Linked DNA regions of Homo sapiens: all the other regions are linked to region 2. Evidence: fine-mapped expression QTL. A gene starts in region 2. Each other region holds a variant in brackets. All regions are shown on one strand. Distances are from middle to middle.

Region 1 (2,755 bases), 40 kb after region 2:
AAGGCTGCAATGAGCTGAGATCTCACCACCGCACTCCAGCCTGGGCAACAGAGCAAGACTGTCTCAAAAAAATAAATATGGCCAGGCGTGGTGGCTCACGCCTGTAATCTCAGCACTTTAGGAGGCCAAGGCGGGCAGATCACTTGAGGCCAGGAGTTCAAGACCAGCCTGGCCAACATGGTGAAACCCCGTCTCTACTAAAAATACAAAAATTAGCGAGGTGTGGTGGTGCATGCCCGTAATCGCAGCTACTTGGGAGGCTGAAACGGGAGAATCACTTGAACCCGGGAGGCAGAGGTTGCAGTGAGCCAAGATCATGCCACTGTACTCCAGCCTGGGCGACAGAGTGAGACTCTGTCTCAAAATAATGATAATAATAATAAATTAAATTAAAAGAAGGAAACCCAAAAGAAGGAGTCCTAGAATGGCCCAACCTCTGTGGCCTCATCCCCACCCTCCCGCTGTTTCTTGTCCCTCCTCAGGGCCCTGGCACCTGCTCTTCCTTCTGCCTGGAACTCACTTTCTATCTCAGCTCTCAGGGTCTCAGTGCAGAGAGAGACTTCCCAGTTCTCCCCCATCACATGACCTCTGCCCTAGCCATGGTGTCTGTGTCTAAAATGGGGACAGACAGAGTGAGAAGGGGCTTGAGTCAGGTCTTCCAGGCTTAAGAGACTCAGGCCTAAGCCCCAGCCCTGCTGCTGCTCTCGTGGGACCCTGGGCATCAGGGGCATTTCCGGAGTCATCTTGGCCCTGGGACCTCCGGACCAAGGCCCCCGTCCACCCCCCAGGGACCCATCAGGGTGGGGGCAACATATCCCAGCCGTGGGAACAGGCCCGATTCCGGCTGGGGATTAAAATTAGCCCTGGAGGTTAAATTTAGCAAGTCAAGCCGGAGCTGAGGGTCTGGGACTGACAGCTTGGGCTCTACATAGTTGTGGGGGCTCAGAGACCCAGCCCAGAGAGGGCAGAGGGTGTGCCTGGGGTCACACAGCATGCCATATCTGCCAGCCGAGGTATCTAACACTTCTGGGCCCTGGGATAATGGAGGGCCTTGCCCAGACCGCTTGGGCAGGGGTCTGGGAAGCCCTGAGAACACTCCCAGAGAACAATCTGGATTTCTTTCTTTCTGTTTTTGAGACGGAGTCTCGCTCTGTTGCCCAGCCTGTCAAAATCTCGGGATCTCGGCTCA[C/G]TGCAACCTCCGCCTCCCAGGTTCAAGGGATTCTCCTGCCTCAGCATCCTGAGTAGCTGGGTCTACAGGTGCCCACCACTATGCCTGGCTAATTTTTGTATTTTTAGTAGAGACAGGGTTTTGCCATGTTGGCCAGGCTGGTCTCGAACGCCTGACCTCGTGATCCACCCACCTCAGCCTCCCAAAATACTGGGATTACAGGCATGAGCTACCACGCCAAGCCAGATTTCTTTTTCTTTTTCTTTTTCTTTTTCTTTTTTTTTTTTGAGACAGAGTCTTGCTCTATCACCCAGGCTGGAGTGCAGTGACACACCTGCCTCAGCCTCCCAAGTGGCTGGGACTACAGGTGTGCGCCACGACAGCTGGTTAATTTTTGCATTTTTAATAGAGATGGGGTGGGTAGGATGCGGTGGTAATCCCAACACTTTGGGAGGCCAAGATGGGTGGATCATGAGGTCGGGAGTTTGAGACCAGCCTGACCAACATGGTGAAACCTCGTCTCTACTAAAAATACAAAAATTAGCTGGGCATAGTGGAGGGCACCTGTAATCTCAGCTACTTGGGAGGCTGAGGCAGGAGAATCACTTGAACCTGGGAGGCGGAGGTTTTAGTGAGCCGAGATCGCGCCATTGCCCTCCAGCCTGGGCAACAAGAGTGAAAACTCGTCTCAAAAAAAAAAAAAAAAAAATAGAGATGGGGTTTTAGCATGTTGGCCAGGCTGGTCTCGAACTCCTGATCTCAAGTGATCTGCCTGCCTCGGCCTCCCAAAGTGCTGGGATTACAGGCGTGAGCCACCGTGACCGGCCTGATCTGGATTTCTTGATAACTTGTTGCCAAGCCTGGTGGTGGGTGCTCAGCATTTCCTACCAGCCCATTCACAGAAGAGCAAACTGAGGCCTGGGGAAAGGGTCTTCTGTGCTGAGGGCTGCCCTGAGGGTCAGAGGGAAGGCCAGGCCTGAGCGTAGGTCCGCGTGACCCTGGAGAGGCCCCTTGCCTGAAGCCTCAGTCACCTGTGACATGGTAGAGGCTGGGAGGTGGAGTGTGGTCACACAGTTGGCGGAGCGGGGACGTCCCCTGTGGTGTCAGGGGACGTCTGTACAGAGGGCGGCGGCTGCAGGACAGGCCACATGATTCGATTGTTCCCAGGAACCTCGAGTGGGGGTCTCTGGGGAAGGCCTGGACCCCAGCATAGTCCAGCAGTCTCCTCCTTCTGGGACCCCTACCAGGGCGATCTCACATCTCCTTGAGTGGGGTACAGGATTTCTTCCAAGTCACCAAGTGGATGCCAGGCCCACACCCTGGCCCAAGGACTCTGAGCTGGAGGCCTTTCCAGAGTGTGCCTGCATCCTCCTGCTAGAGCAGGAGGCGTTTCTATTATTCTGTTTTCTTTTTCCTTTAAAGACTGGGTCTCTGTTGCCCACGCTGGAGTGCAGTGGCAAGATCATAGTTCACTGCAGCCTCAACCTCCCCAGCTCAAGTGATCATCCTACTTCAGCCACCGGAGTACCTGGGACTATAGACGTGTGCCACCATGCCTGGCTAATTTTTGCATTTTTTGTAGAGCCG
Region 2 (2,750 bases):
GCTTTCGAGGTCTACCATTCCCCACCACCAAAGCACCTACAATGTGCAATGTTTAAGAGCCTGGGCTCTGGCAGGGCACAGTGGCTCACGGCTGTAATCCCAGCACTTTGGGAGGCCGAGGAGGGTGGATCATGAGGTCAGGAGTTCGAGACCAGGCTGGCCACCATGGTGAAACCCCATCTGTACTAAAAATACAAAAATTAGCCAAGCGCGGTGGCGGGCGCCTGTGATCCCAGCTACTCGGGAGGCTGAGGCAGAATTGCTTGAACTCGGGAGGTGGAGGTTGCGGTGAGCAGAGATCGCACCACTGCACTGTAGCTGGGGCGACAGAGCAAGACTCTGTCTCAAAAAAAAAAAAAAAAAAAAAAAAGAAAGGAAAAAAAAGCCGGGGCTCTGGGGTCAGCTGTCTGGGTTCGAATCCCTCAATTTATAGGCCGTGAGAACTTGGGCACGTGACTTAACCTTTGAGCCTCAGTTTCCTCCACGACAAAATGTGGAAATGAGACCTACAACGAATTATGTCTGTACATAGCTTATCGGGGGATCTGCTAAGCGTGGAGCTCAATAAATATTCGCTATGGTTGTTGGGAGGGGCTCCCCATAATGAGTGACGGCTCAACAAAGGTGCGATTGGTCCCAGTCCCACCCGAGCCTCCTAAATCGATCCAGGAGGTCCACTCACCTCCCCACGAGCCTCCTCTGTCCCCCCGCGCCGAAAGCCCAGTTCTCTCAAAACTTGGGGGCCCAAGTCACAAACTTTTCTCTTCCAATGGATATAGCAGGAGGCAAACTGGAGACCGGACCCTCAGCGATCTGGCTTCCTCTGCCGGGACAGAAAGCAACTTGATACTCGACCGCTACCCCCACCCCAGAGCTCCCCCACTGCGCTTGCGCACCCCCGCCCCCCAAAAGTGAGGAAGGGCCCGGGCAGTAAGTGCTGCCTCTGGCCCTTTAAGACTTAGGGGAGGGCGTGGGTTCCGCTGGGGTCCTGGGAGGGCAGTTGCGCCTGCGCCTTCTTTTCCCCTCCTCACCGACTCGGAGGGAATGGGCGGGGCCTAAAGGGCTCTGAGAATTTCACTACGCCTGCGCCCGCTCACCTTTACCCTGCCCACAGATTTTTCCAGAGGGAGCCAATTGGCTCCGGCTTCGGGTAGATGGGCGGGGCTATCTCAAGAAGAAGAAGTAGGGGAAGTACGCGGGGCGTCTGGAACTTAAAGGGGCAGCGTACCTTGGCCGTCCCGTTCCACAACAAGGTCCCTTCTGCGGTCTCAAAGGCTTATAAGCAAGGGCGGGGGCAGAGGGCTAAAGAAGGGAGTTTTTGCGGCCCGAGTGGGTAATGCGTGGAGGACTCCCCCAACTCGTCTCTCAAGGAAAAGGGGGTTCAGAAAGGGAGAGAGTTCTTCCCCCTCTCCTGCCTGGGTGTCGCTCCACCAGCCTCCTGGCCGTCGCGCCCCCTCCTCACTGCGCCACCCCCGGGTGTGCCTCCTTCCCTGCGTCTCACACAGCCCCTTTCTTGTCCGCAAAGACTGAGGAGCGGGGAGGGCGGGCCCTCTGACACCGGAACAGGAGCCGTGCGGCGTCCGGTTTCAGCAGGGAAGGCTTAGGCGGGCGTCCCAACCTCCGGGCTTCCGGTGCCGTTTCCCGGTTCGCTCGGCCGCGGTCGCTATGGAGGAGCCGGAGATGCAGCTCAAGGGGAAGAAAGGTGGTGCGGGCCTGCGGGCGGGACAGAGGGGGCCGGTAACTTGTGGAGGGGCGGCCTGACAAAGGCCGGGCGCGGAGGGACCGTGCGAGGAGCAGTGATTGAACTGCCGTCCAATCCCAGCTCTGCCGCTGACTAGTTTTGAAACCTGTAGAAAGGCTCCGTGTCTGCTTTAATTACCGGTCCCCCCAGGATTGTTTCAAGAATTCAGTAGCTGAGGCTGGGAGTGGTGGCTTTGTAATCCCAGCACTTTGGGAGGCCTAGGCGGGAGGATCGCTTGAGCCCGAGACCAGCCTAGGTGACATAGTGAGATCTCGTCTCTAAAAAAATACAAAAATTAGCCGGGCGTGGTGGCGCACGCCTGTGGTCCCAGCTACTTGGGCGGCTAAGGTGGGAGGATTGCTTGAGCCCGGGAGGTCAAGGCTGCACTGCAGTGGGCTACGGTCGTGCCACTGCACCCCCAGCCTGGGTGACAAGTGAGACCCTGTCTAAAAAAAAAAAACTCAACAACCTGATATTTGTAATGCATTGGAAGAATCCCCGGGGCGTAGTAATCGCTGTGCGTCTTGTTTCCTTTTTTTTTTTTTTTTTTGAGACAAGGTATCACACTGTCGCCCAGGCTGGGGTGCGGTGGCGCGATCATGGCTCACTGTAGCCTCGATCTCTCTGGCGCGGGCGATCCTCTTGCCTCAGCTTCTCCAGTAGCTGGGACTACAAGTGCACACCACCACATCAGGCTAATTCTTTAATTTTTTTTTTTTTTGACGGAGTCTCGCTCTGTCACCCAGGCTGGAGTGCCGTGGGGGGATCTCAGCTCACTGCAACCTCAGCCCCCTGAGTAGCTAGGATTACAGGCACACACCCCCATGCCCAGCTAATTTTTTTGTATTTTTAGTAGAGACGGGGTTTCACCTTGTTGCTCAGGCTAGTCTCGAACTCCTGACCTCGAGTGATCCACCCACCTTGGCCTCCCAAAGTGCTGGGATTACAGGTGTGAACCACTGCACCCAGCTAATCCCCTATACTTTAAATCACCCTAGATTACTCACAT
Region 3 (2,755 bases), 30 kb after region 2:
TGCTTGAGCTCAAGAGTTCAAGACCAGCTTGGGCAACCTAGTGAGACCCTGTCTCTACAAAAAATAAGATGTCAAAAAATCAAAAAATTAGCCATGTGGAGGGGCAGGCGCCTGCAGCCCTAGCTACTCGGGAGGCTGAGGCAAGAGATTGGCTTGAACCTGGGAGGCGGAGGTTGCAGTAGGCCCAGATTGTGCCATTACACTCCAGTCTAGGTGACAGACCAAGGCCCCATCTCAAAAAAAGAAAAAAGAAAAACAGAAAACTGAGCAAGTTGGCAGTGTTTCTTCTGTCTGTGAAGCAGTTGTTTGGTCGTTGATTCAAGGAAGGGTGATTGAGGGCCTTCTATGTACTAGGCGCTGGGAAGCCGGCAGGGCGAGATGCTCATCAAAGAAAGCAATAAAGAAACACACACCAAAAAGTCTGATAGGGCTGAGGTGCTGCAGAAAGAGTTGAATTTGGCCGGGCGTGGTGGCTTACACCTGTAATCCCAGCACTATGGAAGACCGAGGCAGCAGGATCACTTGAGACCAGGAGTTTGAGACCAGCCTGGGCAACACAGGGAGACCCCGGCTCTAAAAAAATACAAAAATTAGCTAGGTGTGGCGCCGTGCTACTCCCAGCTACTCCAGAGGCTGAGGTGGGATGATCGCTTGAGTCCGGGAGGGCCAGGCTGCAGTGAGTCGAGACCACACCACTGCACTCCAGCCCGGGTGACAGAATGAGACCCTGCCTGAAAAAATTAAAATAAATATTAAAAAAGATTGATGCCTCCAGAAAGAGCGTTTTCTGCAGGTCTTTAGAGGACATGGAGACACTCCTGGACTTGGGCAAACCTAGAAGGGTGTCCCGGGGTTGGACACAGTCCGGGCAAAGGGAGAGTGATGGGCAAGTAGGGAATCAGTTTGGGGCTGGTGTTGCAGATGCCCCCAAAGGGGCAGAAGGTGGGCTGGGAGTCTGCTGGTAGATGACACCTTTTCAAGTGAGGGGAGAGGTGGGTGGGTACATGGGGAGTTTGTGGGGACCCCTGCAAACACAGGAAACCGAGGCTCAGAAAGTATCACGCAGTGGGCAAGTGGCGGGTTTAGGATTTGAATCCTGGACTGACTGGCCTACAGCCCCGGCCCTGGCCTCTCTGTGCATGGCCAAAATGGGATCCTGGAGTGAAGTAGAGGGGGC[G/A]TCCCACAGAGGGTCCCACTCACCGTGGACTCCTGCCCCTCGAACAGGAGCTGTCCCTCCCAGGAGCAGGCCCAGGGAGAGGTGGGAAGGAGGGTCTGAGGGCTCCCCACTGGGCCTCACTTTCCCCATGGGTGCCAGAGGGACCTATGGAAAAAAGGACCCCCATGGGGCCTTCTCCAGCTGGAACATTCTAAGAATCCTGGATTCAAACACTACCCATTCAAATCTAGCCTCAGATGCCCCCAGCCTGCATTTCACCCCTGGTGGGTGGAGAGCACCCGGCCTTGGGAAGGCAGCCAGGCCTGTGTGGTGGCTCACACCCGTAATCCCAGCACTTAGGGAGGCTGAGGCAGGAGGATAACTTGAGGCCGGAAGTTCAAGACCAGCCAGTGTGATAAAATGAAGCCCCTTCTCTACAAAAATAAAAAAAATTAGCCTGGCATAGTCTGGTTAAAAATTAGGTGTGCGCTTGTAGCCCCAGCTGCTGGGAAATCTGAGGTGGGAGGAATGCTTAAGCCCAGGAATTGGAGGCTGCAGTGAGCTATGATGGCACCACTGCACTCCAGCTTGGGCAACAGAGCGAGACCCCATCTCAAAAAAAAATAATAATAATTAAAAAGAGGAAACCCAGCCAGGTATGGTGGCCTGTAATCCCAGCACTTTGGGAGGCCGAAGTAGGCAGATCACATGAGGCCAGGAGTTCAAGACCAGCCTGGCCAACATGGTGAAACCCTGTCTGTACTAAAAATACAAACATTAGCTGGGTGTGGTAGCGCATGGCTGTAATCCCAGCTACTGGGGAGGCTGAGGCAGGAGAATCGCTTGAACCCAGGAGGCAGGGGTTGCAGGGAGCAGAGAACACGCCACTGCACTCCAGCCTGGGTGACAAAGTGAGACTCTGTCTCACAAAAAAAAAAAACAAAAAAGAAGAAAGCTAGAGTGTGGGTGGTATCACTGCAGGGATGGGGGGGCCCTACCTATGTAATGGGGGACCAGCATGGATTGGGGGGAGTCTGCATATGTTTGGAAGAGTCTGCATGCGTCTGGCGGGGGTCTCCACATTGTTCAGGGGAAAGGGGTCTGTGTGTATTTGCGGGACGGCCATGTGTTTAGGGAGATCTGTATGTGTCTGTGCATTTGGGGGATTGGCATGTGTTGGGGCATCTGGGTATGTCTGAGTGTTTTTGGGGTCTGTCTATGCAGAGGGAATAGGATGTGTTTTGGGGATGTGTGTGTTTGGAGAGCTGTGTGGGTTGGGGGGTTTGGCGTATCGTGAACTGCATGTATTTTGGGGACTTTCGCAGGAGGAATACTTGTGTATTTGGGGGATCTGTTGTTTCGGGCATCTGTGGATTTTCTGCGGCTCTGTTTGGGGGTCTCCGTGTGTGGGGAATATTTCTACCTCCCATTATGCCCATACAAGGATGGAGTGACCCCCAACCCCATCCGCCCCTGTCCCTCAGCACTCCACCAGGGACTTTTTGGGGCCCGCAATCTGAGCTGGGTTCCCCCAGGATGGAGAGGTGACCCCAAGGCCTTCTGAGAGGCATCAGGACCCATCGACCACAAATCCTCCCC

What was found. PIP is the estimated chance that this variant, and not a neighbour inherited with it, causes the effect.
Region 1: its variant is fine-mapped to the expression of BORCS8 in whole blood (TOPMed, PIP 0.96).
Region 3: its variant is fine-mapped to the expression of BORCS8 in whole blood (TOPMed, PIP above 0.99).

The regions. Positions count from the first base shown.
Region 1 is chr19:19,151,081-19,153,835 of GRCh38, reverse strand. All of the region lies in intron 5 of BORCS8-MEF2B (BORCS8-MEF2B readthrough), which reads left to right. The region is part of intron 1 of MEF2B (myocyte enhancer factor 2B); the gene reads left to right. Among named protein-coding and RNA genes, the nearest start is that of TMEM161A, 14 kb to the right of the region's middle. RefSeq lists an enhancer at 2,070-2,129. The variant C/G (reference allele first, on the strand shown) is at 1,190.
Region 2 is chr19:19,191,033-19,193,782 of GRCh38, reverse strand. BORCS8 (BLOC-1 related complex subunit 8) reads left to right here and starts at 1,631. Exons shown (of 6, transcript NM_001145784.2): 1 at 1,631-1,702. The coding sequence starts at 1,666. BORCS8-MEF2B (BORCS8-MEF2B readthrough) reads left to right here and starts at 1,631. Exons shown (of 12, transcript NR_027308.2): 1 at 1,631-1,702. RFXANK (regulatory factor X associated ankyrin containing protein) reads right to left here and starts at 1,525. Exons shown (of 10, transcript NM_003721.4): 1 at 1,229-1,525; 2 at 683-823. RefSeq lists an enhancer at 659-748.
Region 3 is chr19:19,161,153-19,163,907 of GRCh38, reverse strand. The region is part of intron 5 of BORCS8-MEF2B (BORCS8-MEF2B readthrough); the gene reads left to right. The region is part of intron 1 of MEF2B (myocyte enhancer factor 2B); the gene reads left to right. Among named protein-coding and RNA genes, the nearest start is that of MEF2B, 7.7 kb to the left of the region's middle. RefSeq lists an enhancer at 2,535-2,755. The variant G/A (reference allele first, on the strand shown) is at 1,178.